7 linked regions of the Homo sapiens genome follow. The protein of the gene in region 6 interacts with the protein of the main gene of each other region in a pairwise test. Each region holds a gene or a part of one and is shown on either strand. Other genes may lie near its edges. The genes, in order: TNNT1, CMYA5, MYH3, DYNC2LI1, SON, CLIP4 and MYBPC1.

Region 1 (3,500 bases), on a different chromosome or scaffold from region 6:
AAAAATACAAAAATTAGCCGGGCGTGGTGGCAGGCGCCTGTAATCCCAGCTACTCTGGAGGCTGAGGCAGGAGAATCACTGAACCCAGGAGGCGGAGGTTGCGGTGAGCCGAGATGGCACCACTGCACTCCAGCCTGGGCGACATGAGCGAAACTCTGTCTTAAAAAAAAAAAAAAAAAAAGGCTGAGGTGAGAGGATCACTAGAGCCTGAGAGGTTGAGACTGCGGTGAGCTGTGATGGTGTCACTGCACTCCAGCCTGGGTGACAAAGTGAGACCCTATCAAAAAAAAAAGAAAAGAAAGAAAAGAAGGAAGGAAGGAAGGAAGGAAAGGTAGGTTTTAGTCCAGGGCTGGTATGGCAATTCTACAAAATCAGAGACCAGACTCCTATGTTTTCTGCTTCACTCACTACTTTTAGCCCAATATTTCCATCCTCAAAATCACTTAGTCCAATATAGCTGCTAGCTCCAGCCTCACATGGATGATCCAAGCAGCAGAAAGAAGACGCAAGAGAAGAGCCACACAGTCTCTTTTGGAAGCCGCACCCAGTGACCTGCTTTCGTCTGAGTAGCCACCCCTACCTGCAAGGGAGATTGGGCAAAGTAGTTTTTCAACTCAGCCTAATGCACAAGAGGCTATTTCTAGAAGAAAGGGAGAAGGGCTAACAGGTAGGCAAGCAGCCATCTCTTCCACAGTTTTATTTCCATATTTTCTAGAGAAGGAAACAGGATTCTAAAGGAAGTCATGTGACATATTCATAAACCAGAGAATGGCATGGCTGGGAATTGAACCAGGGGCTTCTAACTGCAGAGCCTGGGCTCGGTCTTTTCTTTCTTCCTTTTCTTTCCCCTCTCCCCTCCCCTCCCTTCCCCTCGTCTCCCCTCCCCTCCCCTCCCCTCGTCTCCCCTCCCCTCCCTCCCTCCCCTTCTTCTTCCCTCCTCTCCCCTCCCCTCTTCTCCTCTCCCCTCCCCTCTTCTCCTCTCCCCTCCCCTCTTCTCCTCTCCCCTCCCCTCCCCACTTTCCTTTCTCCTTTTCTTTCCTTTCTTTTGTCTTGCTCTGTTGCCAGGCAGGAATACAGTGGTGCAATCACAGCTCACTGCAGCTTTGACCTCCCAGGTTCCTTCTGCCTCAGCCTCCCAAGTAGCCGGAAACACCCTGCCTGGCTAATTTTTTTAATTATTTTTAGCAGAGACGGGGTCTCTCTTTGTTGCCCAGGCTGGTCTTGAACTCCTGGGCTCAAGTGTTCTGCTGGCCTCTGCCTCCCAAAGTGCTGGGATTACAGGTGCCGAGCCTGGTCTCTTAATCATGACACCCTTCTCTCCCCTTGGGAAATGCGAGAGCTCCAGCTCGGATGTGGAGAAAGTGGGCACAGATTTTAAAACTCTCGGCCTCAAATATGAACAAAATGGTGCCGACAACGCTGAACTCACAGTCTCGCTGTGTGGCTTTGGGTGGTTCCCACAACCTCTCTGGGCCCAAGTTCCTCTCCGTCCCTGGGCCTAGGGCCCGGTCTGCCTGGCTGCCTCCATCACAGCCCTCCTGCCCTGCCAGGGAGAAAGCCCAGGAGCTGTCGGACTGGATCCACCAGCTGGAGTCTGAGAAGTTCGACCTGATGGCGAAGCTGAAACAGCAGAAATATGAGGTGAGACCCAGCTCCGCAGGGAGGGAGGGAGAGAGGGCAGGGCTGGGCTGGGAGGGACCAGCAAACTCCAGGCAGGGGTGGGTGGCCCGTCCCCACGTCCCCACCGGCTGTCCCAGCATCTGTCTTCTGCCTCCGCAGATCAACGTGCTGTACAACCGCATCAGCCACGCCCAGAAGTTGTGAGTGTGACCGTCTCAAGCCCTTGCTCTTGTCCCTACCCTCCCGCTGACTCTCAGGCCTCTTTCCCTCCCTCTGTGGGCTCCATCCCCCACTGCCTGAGTTTCTGCCCCTTTCTCTTTGTCCTTCCTTCTCTGTCCTCCTCTCTCTGCTCTCGGAATCCTGGGTCTCAGTTCCTTTTTCTTTTTCTTTCTTTTTTTTTTTTTTTATTGAGACTGCGTCTCGCTCTGTCACCCAGGCTGGAGTGCAGTGGAGTGATCTCAGCTCACTGCAACTTCCATCTCCCGGGTTCAAGCGATTCTCCTGCCTCAGCCCCCTGAGTAGCTGGGATTACAGGTGCGCGCCACCAAGCGTGGCTAATTTTTGTATTTTTAGTAGAGACGGGGTTTCACCATGTTGGTCAGGCTGGTCTCGAACTCCTGACCTCGTGATCCACCCGCCTTGGCCTCCTAAAGTGCTGGGATTACAGGCGTGAGCCACCGCGCCCAGCCGAGAGGGTCTTCCCTGAATCTCTCTGTTTCTCCACTCCCTCTTCCTTCCTCCCTCCTCTCCCTCTCCCTTCTCCTCTTCTCCCATTTCCTGTCTCTTTCACCCCAGCCCTTCCTGCGTGTTACCCACCCATGCCCAGATCATCCAACCCTTCCTCCCCCCACCCTGGCCCCTGACTCATAAACATTCATCAGCTCCCCCATGAACACCCTGCACTCGCCCCCAAATATCAGCTCCCACATGTCAGCGAGGCTTTGACCACCAGCCGCTGCCCCCCAGTCATAGAACCCAAAAGAGGTGACAGTTGTTTTGCTCACTGCTTCCTCTGGGCAGGGAGGGCTAATATTTTGGGGAATGGGCTTCCTGAATTGAGGGCCTGGGGCCCATTTCAGAGACTGGAGGGGCCCCTTTTTCCTGATACCACCTCATTCTTCTACAGCCGGAAGGGGGCAGGGAAGGGCCGCGTTGGAGGCCGCTGGAAGTGAGGATGCCGCCCCGGACAGTGGCACCTGGGAAGCCTGGGAGTGTTTGTCCCATCGGTAGCTTGAAATAAACGCTCCCCTCAGACACCCGCTGGGTTCTCTGATGTTATTATGGTTGAGATGCAGCTGGTCTCTCCTGGTTAATTGACTTCTTATTACCAACAAGTTACTTGAAAGAGTGTCACCAATAATCATTAAAGTACGGCAGGCTGAACCTTCACACACTGCTGGTGGGAATGGAAAATGCAACAGCTTTGCAAGCAGCCTGGCGGTTCCTCAACAAGTGAAAGCATTTCTGCAGGACCCAGCAGTTCCCCTCCTGGATGTATATCCAAGAGAACCAAGAACCTTTGTCCACACAAAAGCTTGTACATGAATGTTCATAGTAGCATTTTTATTTTTAATTTTTAGAGACAGGGTCTTGCTCTGTCGCCCAGGCTGCAGTGCAGTGGCGTGATCACGGCTCACTGCAGCCTTGAATTCCTGGGCTCAAGTGATCCTCCCACAACAGCCTCTGAAAGTGTTGGGATTTTAGGTGTGAATCACTGCACCGGCCGCAGCATCTTTTTTTTTTTTTTTTTTTGAGATGGAGTCTTGCTCTGTCACCCAGCCTGGAGTGCAGTGGCATGATCTCGGCTCACCGCAACCTCCACCTCCCGGGTTCAAGCAATTTTCCTGTCTCAGCCTCCCAAGCAGCTGGGACTACAGGTG
Region 2 (3,500 bases), on a different chromosome or scaffold from region 6:
CAAACACAGAGCTTTCCTGGCCTTCCAAAGAAGATAGCCAGGAAAAAATTAAACTACCTCCTGAAAGATTCTTCCAGAAACCAGTGTCTGGCCTATCAGTGGAACAGGTGAAGTCAGAAACAATCTCCTCTTCTGTCAAAACAGCCCATTTCCCGGCAGAAGGTGTGGAACCTGCATTGGGCAATGAAAAAGAAGCACACAGGAGCACACCTCCTTTTCCTGAAGAGAAGCCATTGGAAGAATCAAAAATGGTTCAGTCAAAGGTTATTGATGATGCTGATGAGGGAAAGAAACCATCACCTGAAGTAAAAATACCCACACAAAGAAAACCCATCTCCTCAATCCATGCAAGAGAGCCTCAATCCCCAGAGTCACCTGAGGTGACACAAAATCCACCTACACAACCAAAGGTGGCTAAGCCGGACCTTCCTGAGGAAAAGGGAAAGAAAGGAATTTCATCTTTCAAATCGTGGATGTCCAGCTTGTTTTTTGGATCGAGCACTCCAGATAACAAAGTTGCTGAACAAGAAGACTTAGAAACACAGCCAAGTCCATCCGTAGAAAAAGCAGTGACTGTGATAGATCCTGAAGGTACAATTCCCACCAATTTTAATGTAGCTGAGAAACCAGCTGATCATTCATTATCAGAGGTAAAACTTAAAACTGCTGATGAACCCAGAGGTACTTTAGTAAAATCTGGTGACGGTCAAAACGTTAAAGAAAAATCCATGATTTTATCAAATGTAGAAGATTTACAACAGCCAAAATTCATTTCTGAGGTGTCTAGGGAAGATTATGGAAAAAAAGAAATCTCAGGCGATTCAGAGGAAATGAACATAAACTCAGTAGTTACTTCTGCTGATGGTGAGAACCTTGAAATTCAATCTTATTCACTAATCGGTGAGAAATTGGTTATGGAAGAAGCCAAAACTATTGTTCCTCCTCATGTTACTGATAGTAAAAGAGTCCAGAAGCCAGCAATCGCTCCTCCATCTAAATGGAATATTTCTATTTTTAAGGAAGAGCCAAGAAGTGATCAAAAACAAAAATCACTCCTTTCATTTGATGTAGTAGATAAGGTGCCACAACAGCCAAAATCAGCTTCCTCCAACTTTGCAAGTAAAAATATCACAAAGGAATCAGAGAAACCAGAGTCAATTATTTTGCCAGTAGAAGAATCAAAAGGCAGTTTAATTGATTTCAGTGAAGACAGACTCAAGAAAGAAATGCAAAATCCTACTTCCTTGAAAATTTCTGAAGAGGAAACAAAACTCAGGTCTGTTAGTCCAACTGAGAAGAAAGATAATTTGGAAAACAGATCATATACCTTGGCAGAAAAGAAGGTGCTGGCAGAAAAACAAAACTCTGTGGCCCCATTAGAGCTTAGAGATAGTAATGAAATAGGGAAGACACAAATTACACTTGGATCTAGATCTACTGAACTGAAAGAATCAAAAGCCGATGCTATGCCACAGCACTTCTATCAAAATGAAGACTACAATGAAAGACCCAAAATCATTGTTGGTTCTGAAAAGGAGAAAGGTGAAGAAAAAGAAAATCAGGTATATGTGCTTTCAGAAGGAAAGAAGCAGCAGGAACATCAGCCTTATTCTGTGAATGTAGCCGAGTCTATGAGTAGAGAATCAGATATCTCTTTAGGTCATTCTTTGGGTGAAACTCAATCATTTTCATTAGTTAAAGCTACATCAGTTACTGAAAAATCAGAAGCCATGCTCGCAGAGGCTCACCCAGAAATCAGAGAAGCAAAGGCAGTAGGAACCCAACCACATCCTTTAGAAGAAAGTAAAGTTTTGGTGGAGAAAACCAAGACTTTCCTGCCGGTGGCTCTTTCTTGTCGTGATGAAATAGAGAACCACTCTTTATCTCAGGAAGGAAATCTAGTATTAGAAAAGTCAAGCAGAGATATGCCAGATCACAGTGAAGAAAAAGAACAGTTCAGAGAGTCAGAGCTATCGAAAGGCGGTTCAGTAGATATCACAAAAGAAACTGTGAAACAAGGATTTCAAGAAAAGGCAGTAGGAACCCAACCACGTCCTTTAGAAGAAAGTAAAGTTTTGGTGGAGAAAACTAAGACTTTCCTGCCAGTGGTTCTTTCTTGTCATGATGAAATAGAGAACCACTCTTTGTCTCAGGAAGGAAATCTAGTGTTAGAAAAGTCAAGCAGAGATATGCCAGATCACAGTGAAGAAAAAGAACAGTTCAAAGAGTCAGAGCTATGGAAAGGTGGTTCAGTAGATATCACAAAAGAAAGTATGAAAGAAGGATTTCCATCTAAAGAATCCGAAAGGACTTTAGCTCGTCCTTTTGATGAAACTAAGAGCTCAGAAACACCGCCATATTTGCTGTCACCTGTAAAACCACAAACTCTTGCTTCAGGAGCTTCTCCAGAAATTAACGCAGTGAAGAAAAAAGAAATGCCACGATCAGAATTGACTCCAGAAAGGCATACAGTTCATACTATTCAGACATCTAAAGATGACACATCCGATGTGCCTAAACAATCTGTTCTTGTTTCAAAGCACCACTTGGAGGCTGCGGAAGATACCCGTGTAAAGGAACCACTGTCTTCAGCAAAAAGCAACTATGCTCAATTTATATCTAATACATCAGCAAGCAATGCTGATAAAATGGTTTCTAATAAAGAAATGCCCAAGGAACCTGAAGACACATATGCAAAAGGTGAAGACTTTACAGTGACTAGTAAGCCAGCCGGACTTTCAGAAGATCAGAAGACTGCCTTTAGTATCATTTCTGAAGGCTGTGAGATATTGAATATTCATGCTCCGGCCTTTATTTCTTCAATCGATCAGGAAGAAAGTGAACAAATGCAAGATAAATTAGAATATTTGGAAGAGAAAGCCTCATTTAAAACCATACCACTCCCTGATGATAGTGAAACAGTTGCTTGTCATAAAACATTAAAGAGCAGGTTAGAAGATGAAAAAGTTACCCCATTGAAAGAAAATAAACAAAAGGAAACTCATAAGACAAAAGAAGAGATATCCACAGATTCAGAAACTGATTTATCATTTATTCAGCCCACAATTCCCAGTGAAGAGGATTATTTTGAAAAATATACTTTGATTGATTATAACATCTCCCCAGACCCAGAAAAACAGAAAGCTCCACAGAAATTAAATGTTGAAGAGAAACTCTCAAAGGAAGTTACAGAAGAAACTATCTCTTTCCCAGTAAGTTCAGTGGAAAGTGCACTAGAACATGAATATGACTTGGTGAAATTAGATGAAAGTTTTTATGGACCAGAAAAGGGCCACAACATATTATCTCATCCAGAGACCCAAAGCCAAAACTCAGCTGACAGGAATGTTTCAAAGGACACAAAGAGAGATGTGGACTCAAAGTCACCGGGGATGCCTTTATTTGAAGCAGAGGAAGGAGTTCTATCACGAACCCAGATATTTCCTACCACTATTAAAGTCATTGATCCAGAATTTCTGGAGGAGCCACCTGCACTTGCA
Region 3 (3,500 bases), on a different chromosome or scaffold from region 6:
CATTTGAAAATGTCCTTTAAAATTCCACTTGATAGACATCTTCTCCTCTTTTAAAATAATACAAACCCAGCCAGGTGCGGTGGCTCATGCCTGTAATCCCAACACTTTCGGAGGCCGAGGCGGATGGATCACTTGAGGTCAGGAGTTCGAGACCAGCCTAGCCAACATGGTGAAACCCCATCTCTACTAAAAATACAAAAATTAGCCAGGCATGGTGGCACACGCCTGTAATCCCAGCTATTCAGGAGGCTGAGGCAGGAGGTTCACTTGAACTCAGGAAGAGGTTGCAGTGAGCCGAGATGGCGCCACTGCATTCTGGCCTGAGTGACAGGGTGAAACTCAGTCTCAAAAAAAAAAAACAAACAAAAAACCCTAATACAAACCCTTCCAATAAGTACCGCTCCTCTATTCCATCCACTCTCCATCTAGTTTCTTACAGGAAACTAAGACAGCCGCCATCTTGCTATCTTCCCTTTAGGATCATGAAACCAATTTCCCTCATATGAAGCCATATGAAAATATGAATATAAGTAACACAAACCTCAAAGATTTCAAAGCCTGCAATGTCCAAAACACCAATGAAGTGTTGTCTTGGAAGCTTCGTATCCAGTTGCTGGTTAATGCGAGTGACCATCCACAAGAACAACTTTTCATAAACTGATTTTGAAAGAGCATTCACAGCATGGTGAACCTATCAGGGGAAAGATCAGCTACTGGATATGAAGGAAGTGGCCAGCAGGGTCCTGCACCCTTTCCCGGCCTTGAAGCTGTTACCTGATCCACAGTTTGACCTTTGGTAACGTACTCATTCCCAACTTTCACTCTAGGAAAGCACAAAGCTTTTAGGAGGTCCGAAGAGTTCAGGCCCATCAGATAGGCTGTTTTGTCAGCCACTGGCAAGAAAACAAGGACAGTGCTTAGAAAAGTAGAAGAGCTGCTTTGAAAATCATCCAGAAGTTTCAAAGGTTGGTTAAGTTCATCTTGGTACATTGTGCATTCCCTGTGGCTAAACTGCATATACATGGCCAATGGAAGCTAAGTCACTCAGAGAATATAATGGACTTTATGAAAAGCCAGGGCTGGGTCTCAGAAAGCCCTGGTCATCCCTCACTGCATCTGAAACAAGACTATTCGAGTGATTCAGGAAAAGCGAGTGGTAACAATAGCTATGGGCATCGGAGGCCCAGAAAGGGTCATTCACTTCTCCAGATGGAAGGATTAATCGCTTCCATCCATTTTTTTTTTTTTGAGACAGTCTTACTGTGTTGCCCAGGCTGGAGTGCAGTGGCACGATCTCAGTGCACTGCAACCTCTGCCTCCTGGGTTCAAGAAACTCTCATGCCGGCAGGGCACAGTGGCTCACACCCGTAATCACAGCACTTTGGGATGCCAAGGCAGGCGAATCATTTGAGGTCAGGAGTTTGAGCCTGGCCAACATGGTGAAACCCCGTTTCTACTAAAAATACAAAAAAGTTAGCCAGGCGCGGTGGTGTGTGCCTGTAATCCCAGCTACTCGGGAGGCTGAGGCAGGAGAATCACTTGAACCCAGGCAGCAGAGGTTGCAGTGAGCTGAGATCATGCCACTGCACTCTAGCCTGGATGACAGAGCAAAACTCTGTCTGACTCTCGTGCCTCAGCCTCCTGAGTAGCTGGGATTATAGGCATGCTCCACCATGCCCAGCTAATTTTTTTTAGTAGAGATGGGGTTTCACCATGTTGGCCATGCTGGTCTCGAACTCCTGACCTCAGGTGATCTGGCCCCCTCAGCCTCCCAAAGTGCTGGGATTACAGGTGTGAGCCACTGTGCCTGGCTGGATTAATTGCTTTCAAAAGCAGTACCAAGTGACCTCAGCAGATCAGCCACCCGCTCTGGTTTGCTGTCACACTGATTTTGTACCTTCTGTGCCATCCGGCTCGGCCTGCTCCTCTCGCTGCTTCTGCTTGAACTTCATGTTCCCGTAGTGCATCACGGCTCCCGTCAGCTTGTAGAGCCCAGATTTCTCTTCTGGGGTGAAGCCCAGGATGTCAATGGCGCTCTGGCATGGAAAGGGCAGCACGTCAGTCAGTTGGCCCCAGTGATGGAGGAGGAACACCCACCCCTTCTGTTGGTTCCACTTACGTCTGTAGCCAGCAGCTCCTCTGCATCATCTATGCTGGCCACCAGGATCTCCCCCTGGCTAATGAACGGGTAGTCGTAAGGGTTGGTCGTAATAAGCAGCAGCTCTGAAATGACAAATAGTTCCAGGAGGTTATGCAGATGCAAAGAAAAAACCCACCCAGTGGACTTGAGCTCCTGCACCCTGGGCTGGAACTTTTACCGCTGGATCCTAAATTGAACTTAGAATTAAAAATCTTTTAGACAGTTCCACAATACTCAGGCTGTCATGGAAAATATAGTCCAGGGAAGACTTTTCAGTCTCCCACACAATGGAGATGAAGGACCCTAGAGAGAACCTTTAAATTCCCTTGCCTTGCACGCTAATGGTGCATATCAGTGTCGGCTGGGAGAAGTTAATAGGGAAAACTGGCTGAGTGCGGGTCAGGACGAGAGCCAACCCAGGTGGTTTGGTATAATCATAGCCTTTTCTAAAATCTGTTGAAAAGCAGCAGCCTGTTTCCAAGCTGGAGACCAGAAGGCTGAGCAAATACAGCCAAAGAGCAAAGAAGCAGTGTGCATGGAGACCTCTGTGAGGGGCAGACAAGGGGCAGTGTGCAGTGCCTCCGTGGGCTTGATTATTCTGTTTGCTTTGGCGTCGCATTTGGCCATAGGTTGTTTCTGTGCCAGAACACAAGGGGGCGCCAAAGGACAGTTAGGTGTTCAGTTGCTCAGAAGGTTTTTATAAACCAGAGCTGGTCAGGAGTGGTCTAATCTTGTTGCCCTCCATTTGATTAGGTTTTCAAATTGGCATGTCACTGCCCAGATAGCCACATCCCATTTCTAAAATAAGCTTTTCCTGGCAAAGTGCAGTGGCTCACACCTATAATCCCAGCACTGTGGGAGGCCGAGTCGGGCAAATTGCTTGAGCCCAGGAGTTCAAGACCAACCTGGGCAACATGGTGAAACCTCATCTCTACAAAAAACACAAAAGGTAGCCTGGTGTGGGGGCATGCACCTGTAGTCGCAGCCACTCGGGAGGCTGGGGCTGGAGGATTACTTGAACCCAGAAAGGTCAAGACTACAAGTGAGCTGTGCTTGTGCCACTGCACCCCAGCCTGGGCATCAGAGTGAGACCCTATCTCAAAATAAATAAATAAAATAAAATAAACTTTCCCTGTTGACTGTAGAGTCACTCTACGTAGATACAACTCTCCTTGGTCTAGTGATCAGAGTCAAACTACCTAAAAGACCAGCCCCACTGGTGACTTCCTCACCTATGAGCTCAGGCTTCTTGTTAGAAAGAATCTGGTAGAAGATGTGGTAGCTTCTTTCAGCCTTCAGCTGGAAAGTGACTCTTGATTTTTCCAGAAGATCTGGAACACAAACACAGGACTCTCTTTCA
Region 4 (3,500 bases), about 15 Mb from region 6:
ATCTACCAATCATACTGCTAAATCTTAATCTGATGGCCTGCTTCTACAGTATACGTTAGGAAATATATAAAATAAATGATAAAATATCCAGTTTGAGGACCAACACTGTGCTTCAAAAATGTACCCCTGAGCAACTAAAGCTTACAATGAATGTTCAAATAATTGTAGATTAGGTAGAACAAAAATAATTTAAATATCAGAGTAGCATAGCCAAAAAGAAGGTAAATACTATTGTAGGTTGGGTAATTATGGTAACATTTCTCCCTCAAATAGGGAAATCCAGTATTAGTCTCATATAATTTTTGGCTTATTGTTAGTTTTATATTTAAAGGCGCTCTTAAAGGTTATACTAAGGATTTGCTAAGAATTAAATATTTTGTTTGGGTCTCAAAATCGTTCCCCTTCCTTATGTCTTTTAGAGCTAACTTGCCCTATACAACTAGAATAAGCATAAATATAGTTTAAAGGTTAACATAACACTTACCTGTCAAGACACCTTAGAATAATAGTAGTCTTTCCCTGGAAATTAAAAAAGAAGGAACACTGCGTTAATGTCACTCATATGTAAAAATTGTATTATTGTTCGTAATTGTGGCCCAAAATAGATTTTTAATCAATTGAATGATAAATTACCTGGAAACTAAAAACTAGAAACTTTCGGAATTGTTCTAAAGTTTGATAAGTGGAAAAAGTTAACTGTCAACTTTCCATCACAGTGTAACTACACTGCTATTATTATAATTATAAAGTCCCACAGATGACAAATACTAGCAAATCATACCTCACTTAAGTGGTCAACTTGGCAGCTGTCTTAAATTTTTTCTCTACTCATCAATGTTAATTACTGGTTAAGCCGATGCTTAGTGTCTTTTAAAATGTTTTAATTCCAATTGTTGAAGTGGAAATAAAGAAAAAGGTAACATACAAATAAAGGACACATTGTAAATATGTTCAAAGTAAGCAATTCAGATACTGCATTAGAGTAATTTGTTTTAAGTCCAGAGGATGTACTTATTCCAAGTTTCTGTTTATTTTTATTTTATTTTATTTTATTTTTGAGACAGAGTCTCACTCTGTTGCCAAGGCTGGAGTGCAGTGGCATGATCTTGGCTCACTGCAACCTCTGCCTCCTGGGCTCAAGTGATTCTCGTGCCTCACCCTCTCAAGTAGCTGGGATTACAGGTGCACACCACCATGCCTGGGTAATTTTTGTATTTTTAGTAGAAACAAGGTTTTGCCATGTTGGCTAGGCTGGTCTTGAACTCCTGGCCTCATCTAATCTGCCCACCTCAGCCTCTCAAAGTGCTGGGATTACAGGTGTGAGCCACCATGCCCAACCCCAAGTTTCTTTTTAGGAGTAAGGAAATACAAGTTCTGGCCTAATTCCTACCACTAGTCAGGCAACTTAACTTCACAGCTTAGCCAGGGATTAGCTCAGTGGTTTATATCATTTTTAAAAAATAGTAAAATCCTTTTTTTTTTTTTTTTTTTAAAGAAAAGACCCCTTGCAAGGAAACAGATAAAAGAGAAACAGCAGGACAAGCTCCACTGGAGGAAACCTTCAGGCTCTAAAGAAAATAATTTGGAAAACTCTGGATTGCCAAAAACACAGAACACTTATTATATGTGTTTTTGTTTTTACTAAAAAAACCTATAGTTTTTGACAAAAAAGATAATTACTCCAGATTATATCTGGAATACGATCAAATTGAGTAAATTTTTTGTAATGAGATATATTAAAAAATAACTGGAATTGTACAATATAAAAATGTATATTATTGAAGGATGTTTATTGGCCAGTGTTACATCAAACTGAAAAACTAAAAACAACCTACATGTCCCCTACTGGCTAAATTAATTATGGTAAACCATATAATAGAATAATATACAGCTATTATGAATGACAATGTAGAAATATACTTACTGACATAGTAAAACATTCATAATAGATCAGCATGTCTCTGTTTTCAATTAAAAAATACTTTTCCTGCTTCCTTGAAGTACACACACACACACACACACACACATAGACAGAAACAAACACACAAATGTAGGGGGACATCACTATGTTAATAATGATTATTTCTAGCTGAAGGATTTGAAGGTAATTAAAGTTTTTAAGAAAATCAGGATTTTCTGCCAGGCATGGTGGCTCACGCCTGTAATCCCAGCACTTTGGGAGGCCGAGGCGGGTGGATCACGAGGTCAGGATATCAAGACCATCCTGGCTAACATGGCGAAACCCCAACTCTACTAAAAATACAAAAAAATTACCAGGCGTGGTCGTGGGCACCTGCAGTCCCAGCAACTTGGGAGGCTGAGGCAGGAGAATGGTGTGAACCCAGGAGGCAGAGGCTGCAGTGAGCCGAGATCACACCACTGCACTCGAACCTAGGCGACAGAGCGAGACTCTGTCTCAAAAAAAAAAAAAGAAAAAGAAAATCAGGATTTTCTAATTTTCCTACAATGAACTTGTATCATATGTAGTATGCTGTAAAAGTTCTAAATTAATAAGGGCTACATTACCCAAAAAGTAATGTACTCTGCAAGAAAGTAGAATAAGAATTGGAAGGAATTTTAAATAATATCTAGCCAATTTCCTCAAATTTTCATGGTACACTAGTATTCATTGATTTAAATCACTCCCCCTCGCCTTTTTTGTTTTTTTTTTTGAGACAGAGTCTCCCTCTGTTGCATAGGCTGGAGTGCAGTGGCACCATCTTGGCTCATGAAACCTCTGCCTCTGGGTTCAAGTGATTCTTAGGCCTCAGCCTCCGGAGTAGCTGGGATTACCAGTATGCACCACCACGTGCAGGTAACTTTTTGTATTTTTTAGTTGAGATGGGGTTTCACTATGTTGGTCAGGCTGGTCTTGAACTCCTGGCCTCAAGTGATCTTCCCACCTCAGCCTTCCAAAGTGCTGGGATTACAGTCTTGAGCCACCACGCCTGGCCTTAAATCACTTTTATTATTATTTCATATAAATGTATAGCACTATATGGTAACAATTCCAAATTAACATAAACTAATCTGGGAACTGAAATCAAGTTTTAGATTATCATTAAAATTACAATCCAAAATTTAAAAATTCATTAGTACACTCTGGTCCCCTGAGCATGTGGCTGTAGTCTTGTGGGTTTCCTAATTCAAGAAACATTGACCTAGTACAAGTTCATTTAGAGACCATCAAAATGAATCCCATCTTCCCTCCCATTGCCTCAATCGCCCCAGATGTCCAGCCCTCTCCTCTGACCCATTATCCCTGGAACTCTGAATTTCCTAACTCTGTAAACATCCCTTAATCTGGCCCAATAATCCCCTTCTGTCTTCCCTTCCTCTAAAATCCTTCCACTCTATGACTTCAGCTCCATGACTGGCAAACTCCCCAATATCTCAGCCTTTTCAGAATATTCTCTCCACATGTTGGCCTTAACTAAAATATGACTTACCCTGAACCCCTTCCTCTGCAGCCTTGTTAAACGAAGCTATTTATTCTCACT
Region 5 (3,500 bases), on a different chromosome or scaffold from region 6:
AGCAGAAGAACATGAAGTTGTTCCAGAGAGACCAGTGACTTGTATGGTATCTGAAACTCCCGCCATGTCAGCTGAACCAACTGTGTTAGCATCAGAGCCTCCTGTTATGTCAGAGACAGCAGAAACATTTGATTCCATGAGAGCCTCAGGACATGTTGCCTCAGAAGTATCTACATCCTTGTTGGTTCCAGCAGTAACTACTCCAGTGCTGGCAGAGAGCATTCTGGAGCCGCCAGCCATGGCTGCCCCAGAGTCTTCAGCTATGGCTGTCCTGGAGTCTTCGGCTGTGACCGTCCTGGAGTCTTCGACTGTGACTGTCCTGGAGTCTTCGACTGTAACTGTCCTGGAGCCTTCGGTTGTGACTGTCCCGGAGCCTCCTGTTGTGGCTGAGCCAGACTATGTTACCATTCCTGTGCCAGTTGTTTCTGCGCTGGAGCCTTCTGTGCCTGTTCTGGAACCAGCGGTGTCAGTCCTTCAACCTTCTATGATTGTTTCAGAACCATCTGTTTCTGTCCAGGAATCGACTGTGACAGTTTCAGAGCCTGCTGTCACAGTCTCAGAGCAGACTCAAGTAATACCAACTGAGGTGGCTATAGAGTCCACACCAATGATACTGGAATCTAGTATCATGTCATCACATGTTATGAAAGGAATTAATCTATCCTCTGGTGATCAAAATCTTGCTCCAGAGATTGGCATGCAGGAGATTGCATTGCATTCAGGTGAAGAACCACATGCTGAGGAACACCTGAAAGGTGACTTTTACGAAAGTGAACATGGTATAAATATAGACCTTAATATAAATAATCATTTAATTGCTAAAGAGATGGAACATAATACAGTGTGTGCTGCTGGTACTAGTCCTGTTGGGGAAATTGGTGAAGAGAAAATTTTGCCCACCAGTGAGACTAAACAGCGCACAGTATTGGATACCTACCCTGGTGTTAGTGAAGCTGATGCAGGAGAAACTCTATCTTCTACTGGTCCTTTTGCTCTGGAACCTGATGCAACAGGAACTAGTAAGGGTATTGAATTTACCACAGCATCTACTCTCAGTTTAGTTAATAAATATGATGTTGATTTATCTTTAACTACTCAAGATACTGAACATGACATGGTAATTTCCACCAGTCCTAGTGGTGGTAGTGAAGCTGACATTGAAGGGCCTTTGCCTGCTAAAGATATTCATCTTGATTTACCATCTAATAATAACCTTGTTAGTAAGGATACAGAAGAACCATTACCTGTAAAAGAGAGTGACCAGACATTAGCAGCTCTGCTCAGCCCTAAAGAAAGTAGTGGAGGAGAAAAAGAAGTACCTCCCCCTCCTAAAGAGACACTGCCTGATTCAGGATTTTCTGCCAATATTGAGGATATTAATGAAGCAGATTTAGTGAGACCGTTACTTCCTAAGGACATGGAACGTCTTACAAGCCTTAGAGCTGGCATTGAAGGACCTTTACTTGCAAGTGATGTTGGACGTGACAGATCTGCTGCCAGCCCGGTTGTAAGTAGTATGCCAGAAAGAGCTTCAGAGTCTTCTTCAGAGGAAAAAGATGATTATGAAATTTTTGTAAAAGTTAAGGACACTCACGAAAAAAGCAAGAAAAATAAGAACCGTGATAAGGGGGAGAAAGAGAAGAAAAGAGACTCTTCATTAAGATCTCGAAGTAAGCGTTCCAAATCTTCTGAACACAAATCACGCAAGCGTACCAGTGAATCTCGTTCTAGGGCAAGAAAGAGATCATCTAAGTCCAAGTCTCATCGCTCTCAGACACGTTCACGGTCACGTTCAAGACGCAGGAGGAGAAGCAGCAGATCAAGATCAAAGTCTAGAGGAAGAAGATCTGTATCAAAAGAGAAGCGCAAAAGATCTCCAAAGCACAGATCCAAGTCTAGGGAAAGAAAAAGAAAAAGATCAAGCTCCAGGGATAACCGAAAGACAGTTAGAGCTCGAAGTCGAACCCCAAGTCGTCGGAGTCGGAGTCATACTCCAAGTCGTCGACGAAGGTCTAGATCTGTGGGTAGAAGAAGGAGCTTTAGCATTTCCCCAAGCCGCCGCAGCCGCACCCCCAGCCGCCGCAGCCGCACCCCCAGCCGCCGCAGCCGCACCCCCAGCCGCCGCAGCCGCACCCCCAGCCGCCGGAGCCGCACCCCTAGCCGTCGGAGCCGCACCCCAAGCCGCCGGAGAAGATCAAGGTCTGTGGTAAGAAGACGAAGCTTCAGTATCTCACCAGTCAGATTAAGGCGATCAAGAACACCCTTAAGAAGAAGGTTTAGCAGATCTCCCATCCGTCGTAAAAGATCCAGGTCTTCTGAACGAGGCAGATCACCCAAACGTCTGACAGATTTGGGTGAGTCATTTTAAAGTTTAATGGGATGGTAGTAGAAAATGTTTTAAACCTTAATTTTTTTCTGACCTTGAGTCAAGTGAAATACTTAGTTACTGGTTTAGGATAAATGTTTCTGTCTTTAAGTTTTTATTATTACATGGTACTGTATTTAGGAACTACTGGGATCAGTGTATTATAATTAGAGTTAAAAAGTCCTGTTTCAGAGTATAATAGAACCAAGGTGTTTCCATATTTGAATGTTTTATTTTGTTTTAGTTATCTTGCCATAGCTAAAAATTGAAAGCAGAAACAGATGTAGAACTCTAGCTAAATTAAAAACAAGCTAAGTATATGCTCAGATTGTTATTGTATGTGTTCTAACATACATCCTTGCAACTAAGCCTAAAATTACAATGTTCCTTTTTAAATAAGTTAACATATCTTAAAATGGCATTATAGGACTGTTAAATGAAGGTAATTCTGATTGGTATAGTTGGTAATGGAAGTGAGTGGGGAATTTTGCGTGTGGGGGTTATTTAATTGGGTAGGTGATACTAGCTAAATAAAGTTAAATATTTTAGATCAGTGTGATTTTTAATAACCTGTTCTGCTTTACTTTAAAGATAACTGTTCTAATTTCCCCTGATTTTTAGTGTGCAGAGGTGATTAAAACTTGATCGATATGAATGATTACCTATAATAAATATGGATAATTTATCCTTATCCCAGTATACTGGACATTTCTAGGCCAGGATTGTCTAAAGAAGAAGAGGTTAAGAGTAAAAAGGGAGAATCTGCATTCAGTTCAACAGAAGTTTTCTGAGTTCTTTTTTATTCACAGCAGAGGAACAGTATGTAATTCCTCAAGTGATTGCAAGTGGTGGAGGAGACATGGGTAAAATGCATATATGTCTCTCTTATAGTAACACTGTCTAAAAAGGACAGAATGTGATTACTATAATACTGATAGAGGTGAGGTACTTTAGGAACACAATGGGAAAAGGGGAAAAGGAATGTTAATTCTGACTTAATGACAGCTTGTTAGAAGAGGTGGCACTTCGGCTGGGCATGGTGGCTCATACCTGTAATCCCAGCACTTTGGGAGGCCGAGGCAGGTGGATCACCTGAGGTCAGGAGTTCGAGACCAGCCTGGCCAATGTGGAGAAA
Region 6 (3,500 bases):
AGATTGGTTAATGTTTAAATTGGTCCATTTACATCTCCTCTGTAAAATGTTAATTTAGAAGCATTCCACTTCTCATCTATTTAGGCTTATTTCTCCAGAACCATAATAAAAGGGAACCAGGAGATAAATTTGATAGAATTGTTAAATTTCCAGTTTAGAGTTTTTCAAGTAAAATGTTGGTTCACCATTTCAAATTGTTTTTGGAGGTAGAGATCATACAATTTTTACATATTAGTAGATATTAGTAGATATAAAGTTATTGGACTGAGAATTTGTCTTTTTAGTCATATTCGTTGTAGTATAGTAATTCCTCATCTCCAAGTTTCTTTTTTTTTTTTTTTGTATTCAGATTCTTTAGCAGCTTACCTAGACCAGTCGTCAGAAGTATTATATAAAACCTGTGCCTTGATCTTGGGAGTTATCTGCAGGTTTTGCAGTAATCAACTGGGCTTATTTTCAGATATAACAAAATCAGTTATGCAGGGGAAACCTTGAACCTTGTGCATTGTACCTTAGGTATGATACTTGTCTCACTCCATCTTGACTTCTAATTGTCTTATTTTCTTTCCTATATTGTAGCGCTTTGGGATGGAGAACAATCATTTTATTTTTGTTTATCTCAAAAAGGCTAATATAGTCATTTGTTATTAGTTGCTCAATGATTGTTGAATAAATACATTGAATGAAAGGTAATAATGGATATTGACATTTTGCATAACTGGAATTAAACGTTGAAACCCCGTCTCTACTAAAAATACAAAAATTAGCCAGGCATGGTGGTGTGCGCCTATATTGTCAGCTACTCAGGAGGCTGAGGCAGGAGAATCACTTGAACCAGGAGGCAGAGGTTGCAGTGAGCTGAGATCGCATCACTGCACTCCAGCCTGGGCCACAGAGTGAGACTTTGTCTCCAAAAAAAAAAAAAAAAAAAAAAAAGCATTGTAGTCTTAGAATTATAGGTTTTTGTAGACTCTTATGAACCTTTCCCCACTCACCTCCCTGTGTAGACATCATATTTTCAGGATCTCTGTCAGATAACCATTTAACCTCTTGCATGTCTTCAATAGTGGGAAACTAACAAAATAGTTAATTTTATTGTTAAAAAGCTTTAGTTGTAATAAAATTGTTTTCGTATGTTGACTCAAAATTGGTCTCCCTGAAATTTTGGCCAAGTGATTCTAGTTTGATACATGGCACAAATTCCTTTATAGGATAGCCTTTAAGTATCTGCAGATAGTTTGAACATTTTAACTTAGCCTGAAACTCCTTAGGCTACACATTTCTGTTTCCTTCACCAGTTTCTCATTGTCAGGATTTCTAGACCCTTTTCATCGTAGCTGCTTTCTTGGTACACTGTGGTCAGTCTCCCCTTGAAAAGCGGCATATATAATTGCATTTATTGAGCAAGTATTTATTGAGGGCCTCTTGTGTGCTAGGGACTGTCCTGGATGCTGGAGATATCAGTGACCAAGACAGGTCTTCTATAGGGAAGACCAGTAAACAAACAAATGAATAGACAAAGCAAAAATAGGTCATAATGAATTCTGTGGAAGAAAGAAACAGGGTGCTGTGATAGAGAACAATGGGGGCAAGGCAGCTGCTTTAGATGGGGTGGTCATTCGGAGAATCAGAAGAGGCTGGCTGTGAGAAGAGCCTGGGAAGAAGTGTTCCAGGAAGGAAAACAGAAAACTAAAGGCACAGTGTTGAGGGAAGACCTTGGTATATCCTAAGAATTAATGGAAGGTCTTTGTGGCTGAGAAGCAAAGTGATTGATGGCAGAGTGGGAGGAGAAGGAATTGGAGAGTAAGACACCGGCCAGGTCATGCGGGGTCATGTAGGCCCCCATAGGGAATTTTTATATAATACCAACTAATGAGTGTAAAACAAAGAAACAAAAAGAAACCAGTCCACAGAAACCAGAGTTGAGGCATGTGACTCAGTGTTGACTCTCAAGGTGATTACCCTGTGAAACTATGTACTGTTCTTGCATAACAATTTTTGGAATCTTTTGCTTTGAAATGCCTTCAGAATCAGTTCATGCAGAATACACATTATATACATTATAAATACCAAAATACCTTATTATATATTTTGCTTAAACATTGAATTATCTGTTAAATTTAAATAATATAAAAAAATCTCATTTACCCATGTAGTTACCATTTCTAGTGCTCTTCATTCCTTTGTGAGTGTAGGTCCAGATTTCCATCTGATACCATTTCCTTCCGCCTGAAGCACTTCCTGTAATGTTTCTTATGGTGCTGGTCTGCCAGTGATGAATTCTTTCAGCTGTTTTATGTCTGAAAACATCTTTATTTACCTTATTTTTTTGAAAAATGTGTTTGCTGGGTTTAGAATTATAGGTTGGTAGTTTTCTTTCAGTACTTGAAAGATCTTGCTCTGCTCTCTTCCCATTTGCATTGTTTCTGCTGTCATTTTTGTTTCTCTAGATGTAATGTCTTTTTTTTGGCTGCTTTAAAGAGTTTTTATTTTGAGCAATTTTACTATTATGTGCTTAGGTATTGTTTTCTGTATGTTCTTGTGCTTGGGTTTGGTTGAGCTGCTTGGATCTGAGTTTCAGTTTTCATTAAGTTTGGGAAATCATTTAAAAAAATTTTTTGTCTGCTTCTCCCCGTTTTCAGATACTGTAATTGCATGTATATTATAGACTGCTTGAAGTTGTCCCATAACTCACTGATTTATTTTATATTTAAACATTTTTTTCTCTTTATTTTGGATAGTTTATATTACTGCATCTTCAAGTTCATTAATCTTTCCTTCTGCAGTGTCTAATTAATTAGCTGCTGATTTTTTCCAGTGCAGTTTTCATTTCAGATGAAGTTTTCATCTCTAAAGTTTGCTTTGGCTCTTTTTTATGCCCAGGTCTCTTCTCCACCTTTGAACATTTGGAATAGAGTTATATTGACTGTTTTAATGTCCTTCTCTGTTAATTATAATATCCATGTCAACTCTAGGTCTATTATTCCCCTGATTATGGGTCATGTTTTCTTCTTTCTTTGCTTGCCTGATAATCTTTAATTGGCTGCCAGACATTGTGAATTTTACCTTGTTAGATGCTGGATATTTTTGTATTCCTGTAAGTATTCTTGAACTTTGTTCTGGGATACAGTTTAGTTACTTGGAAATAGTTGGACCCTTTGAGGTCCTACTTTTCTGATTTGTTAGGTGGGTCTGGAGCCATTCTTGGCCTGGGGCTAATTGTTCCCTACTACTGAGAATTCCACTCCAGGGGCCCTGAACCCCCTGGCTACGGACTGGTACTGGTCCCCCTACCCCGGCCCCTGGTGCCAGAAAGATTGGGGACTGCTGTTCTACTCAATGCTGTGTGAATTATGAGGATTCTTTTTCAATCTTCCTTGTGAGAATAGGCACTAATCCCTGTAGTCCTTATGGATGGTTCTTTCCCTTACTTCAAGTATTTCCTCACAAGCATATGATGAATAGTTGAGGAGGACCCTGCACAGGTCTCTGGGTTTCTC
Region 7 (2,279 bases), on a different chromosome or scaffold from region 6:
GGAAAAAGATTTGATTTTTTTTTCCTCACAAATATAAGGCATATAATATTCTTAGAAAATTTCAAGCCTTACTATTGAGATAACCCTTACAAATTTAAACATTTTTAGCTGCTTTATTGGCTTTAAATGATTAAGTTCATAATTGCAAGTCATCTGGTTTCTAAACTGCTAGCCTTATTAGTTCCAAAGTATTGTTGATGCTTTTGTTTCAATATCCCCCCAAAAAACAAAAACTAAAAAAAAAAGTACCACTTATTTATGCTTTGAAACTAGCTGAATGTTGTTAATGATATAAAATGATGCTTTAACAAATGGAACAATATTTGGGGCCCTCCTTAAAAGCGAATAGTATTATACATATACATGATATATTCTTTTTAGTGAAAATGTAGTAAATGGTACAGTAATTAAATTTGATAAAAAGAATAATGTATTCTAGTACATAAGTTCGTAATAAAGTATCAATTGTGATATATTGATAAAAGCTTTTGGTCCTAAAAGTAAAGCTGAAATTGTTTATCATCAGACTGTTACTCTGATAATAGGTAACTTGAATCAAGTTGAGTTGTGAAAAAAGGTAAGAATGTCAACTGAGAATAAATAAATACTGGTACAAATATTCTGATTCTGCAGTGATATATCAAGGAGTAAATACCCCTGGACAACCAGTCTTCCTGGAGGGGCAGCAACAGGTTTAAAAAGTTTATATCCCACTGGATATTCTACTTTCCGTTCCATTCCTCTTACATGAAAATGCACCTTGCATGTAAAGCTTGACTTTCTCATTTGCTTTTAATTGTACCCCTTAGCAGCTCATGGCATACAGTGCTTATGCCATGAACAAGGAAGGCCAAATTATTCAAGGATATTAAGTAATGTAGAAACTAAGTTTTGTCAGAAAGCTACATACCATACCACAAGTCTCCATGAATAAAGCCAGAAAGCTACATTTGAAGATGATCTCGTTTTATATAATAAGACTATCAAAACTTGGGTATCAATATTTCTTTAATATTTTCATTTTTTAAATGTAGAGAGACTTTTTTAAAGATAGTTGACAGCATAGTTTCCTTACATTCATGATGCAATTCAGAGAACTGAACATTTCAAACATTTTTTTTGATGTTCTGAGCATTTTTTATGGAAAGAGGATACAAAAATAGATCCAATATTTAGAGGCTGGGCGTGATGGTTCTCGCCTATAATCCCAGCACTTTGGGAGGCTGAGGTAGGTGGATCGCTTGATCCCAGGAGTCCAAGATCAGATTGGGCAACATGGCAAACTCCCATCTCTACAAAAAGTACAAAACTTAGCCAGGTGTGGTGGCACATGCCTATAGTCCTAGCTACTTGGAGAGCTGAGGCAGGAGGATCACTTGAATCTGGAAGGTCGAGGAGGCTTCAGTGAGCCAAGATCTCCAGCTTAGGTGACAAAGTGAGACTTTGTCTCAAAAAAATAAAAAATAAAAAAAATAAATTGGGAAACTTACATATTTAAAATATTCCCATTACAAATTCACAAGTAGAATATCTGTAACCCATCTATCTGTTGAAGATTTTGGACATTTTCATGGGGACTCAAATTATTTCACGTTTATGAACTTAAAAGGAAAGAAAATTCCAGGCTCTATTACAAAATGTATCAAGCAATAAATGAGTACTATCATATATATGTGATTCACCCCCATTTGGAATTGCAAATTAAGAGTTTTTTGCAGCTGGGTATGCAACCTGATAAAAACCCTGATAATGTAGATCTATGCCTGAGTTTACAATATTTGTTTTGTGAGTTTCCAGAGATAATAACAGCTTTCAAAAGAGGAAAAAAGTAAGGTTCTTTTTTGAAAGCTTTGTAGATTGTATATAGAATAGCTTTGTAACATAAGGTTTTGTGTCTATTTAGATCAGTCATATATATTCCATGCAGAATACAATATTATAGAATACACTAGTCTAATATTTGTACTTGATAATTTTGCCTTTTAGAATTTCAACATATATATATGTACACTAACACTTTGTCTATTGTCTATGTTTTTCTTTTGTTGAAAAACACGATATATATATGTTGTAGGGTTTTGGTTTTTGTATTTGTTTTAAGCTAATGGTTTGGAAGCTCTTACCATAGATATTCACTATACAATCAGAATGACTTTGCCACCTATTCAGGCAAAGTAGTTGTGCATATTAATAAATGTTTTACATATTAATGATCCTTTTGACGTGACTGGATCCCCACCCTTCATTTCATGTGCTTCTATTTTCCTACATCTTTTACA

The links.
Region 1: the proteins of CLIP4 (region 6) and TNNT1 interact in a two-hybrid assay, tested with the Homo sapiens proteins (one large-scale study listed by BioGRID and IntAct).
Region 2: the proteins of CLIP4 (region 6) and CMYA5 interact in a two-hybrid assay, tested with the Homo sapiens proteins (one large-scale study listed by BioGRID and IntAct).
Region 3: the proteins of CLIP4 (region 6) and MYH3 interact in a two-hybrid assay, tested with the Homo sapiens proteins (one large-scale study listed by BioGRID and IntAct).
Region 4: the proteins of CLIP4 (region 6) and DYNC2LI1 interact in a two-hybrid assay, tested with the Homo sapiens proteins (one large-scale study listed by BioGRID).
Region 5: the proteins of CLIP4 (region 6) and SON interact in a two-hybrid assay, tested with the Homo sapiens proteins (one large-scale study listed by BioGRID and IntAct).
Region 7: the proteins of CLIP4 (region 6) and MYBPC1 interact in a two-hybrid assay, tested with the Homo sapiens proteins (one large-scale study listed by BioGRID and IntAct).

What each region holds. Positions count from the first base shown.
Region 1 is NC_000019.10:55,132,207-55,135,706, reverse strand, and holds the end of TNNT1 (troponin T, slow skeletal muscle), read left to right. Parts: intron 1-1,502; coding exon 1,503-1,641; intron 1,642-1,779; coding exon 1,780-1,820; intron 1,821-2,746; coding exon 2,747-2,792; 3' UTR 2,793-3,009; downstream 3,010-3,500. UniProt on the Homo sapiens protein: Troponin T is the tropomyosin-binding subunit of troponin, the thin filament regulatory complex which confers calcium-sensitivity to striated muscle actomyosin ATPase activity.
Region 2 is NC_000005.10:79,734,836-79,738,335, forward strand, and holds part of CMYA5 (cardiomyopathy-associated protein 5), read left to right. Parts: coding exon 1-3,500. UniProt on the Homo sapiens protein: May serve as an anchoring protein that mediates the subcellular compartmentation of protein kinase A (PKA) via binding to PRKAR2A. May function as a repressor of calcineurin-mediated transcriptional activity.
Region 3 is NC_000017.11:10,643,810-10,647,309, forward strand, and holds part of MYH3 (myosin-3), read right to left. Parts: intron 3,472-3,500; coding exon 3,373-3,471; intron 2,224-3,372; coding exon 2,120-2,223; intron 2,037-2,119; coding exon 1,898-2,036; intron 894-1,897; coding exon 775-893; intron 692-774; coding exon 542-691; intron 1-541. UniProt on the Homo sapiens protein: Muscle contraction.
Region 4 is NC_000002.12:43,780,539-43,784,038, reverse strand, and holds part of DYNC2LI1 (cytoplasmic dynein 2 light intermediate chain 1), read right to left. Parts: intron 520-3,500; coding exon 485-519; intron 1-484. UniProt on the Homo sapiens protein: Acts as one of several non-catalytic accessory components of the cytoplasmic dynein 2 complex (dynein-2 complex), a motor protein complex that drives the movement of cargos along microtubules within cilia and flagella in concert with the intraflagellar transport (IFT) system, facilitating the assembly of these organelles.
Region 5 is NC_000021.9:33,553,038-33,556,537, forward strand, and holds part of SON (protein SON), read left to right. Parts: coding exon 1-2,354; intron 2,355-3,500. UniProt on the Homo sapiens protein: RNA-binding protein that acts as a mRNA splicing cofactor by promoting efficient splicing of transcripts that possess weak splice sites.
Region 6 is NC_000002.12:29,121,915-29,125,414, forward strand, and holds part of CLIP4 (CAP-Gly domain-containing linker protein 4), read left to right. Parts: intron 1-3,500.
Region 7 is NC_000012.12:101,681,971-101,684,249, forward strand, and holds part of MYBPC1 (myosin-binding protein C, slow-type), read left to right. Parts: intron 1-633; coding exon 634-692; intron 693-2,279. UniProt on the Homo sapiens protein: Thick filament-associated protein located in the crossbridge region of vertebrate striated muscle a bands. Slow skeletal protein that binds to both myosin and actin.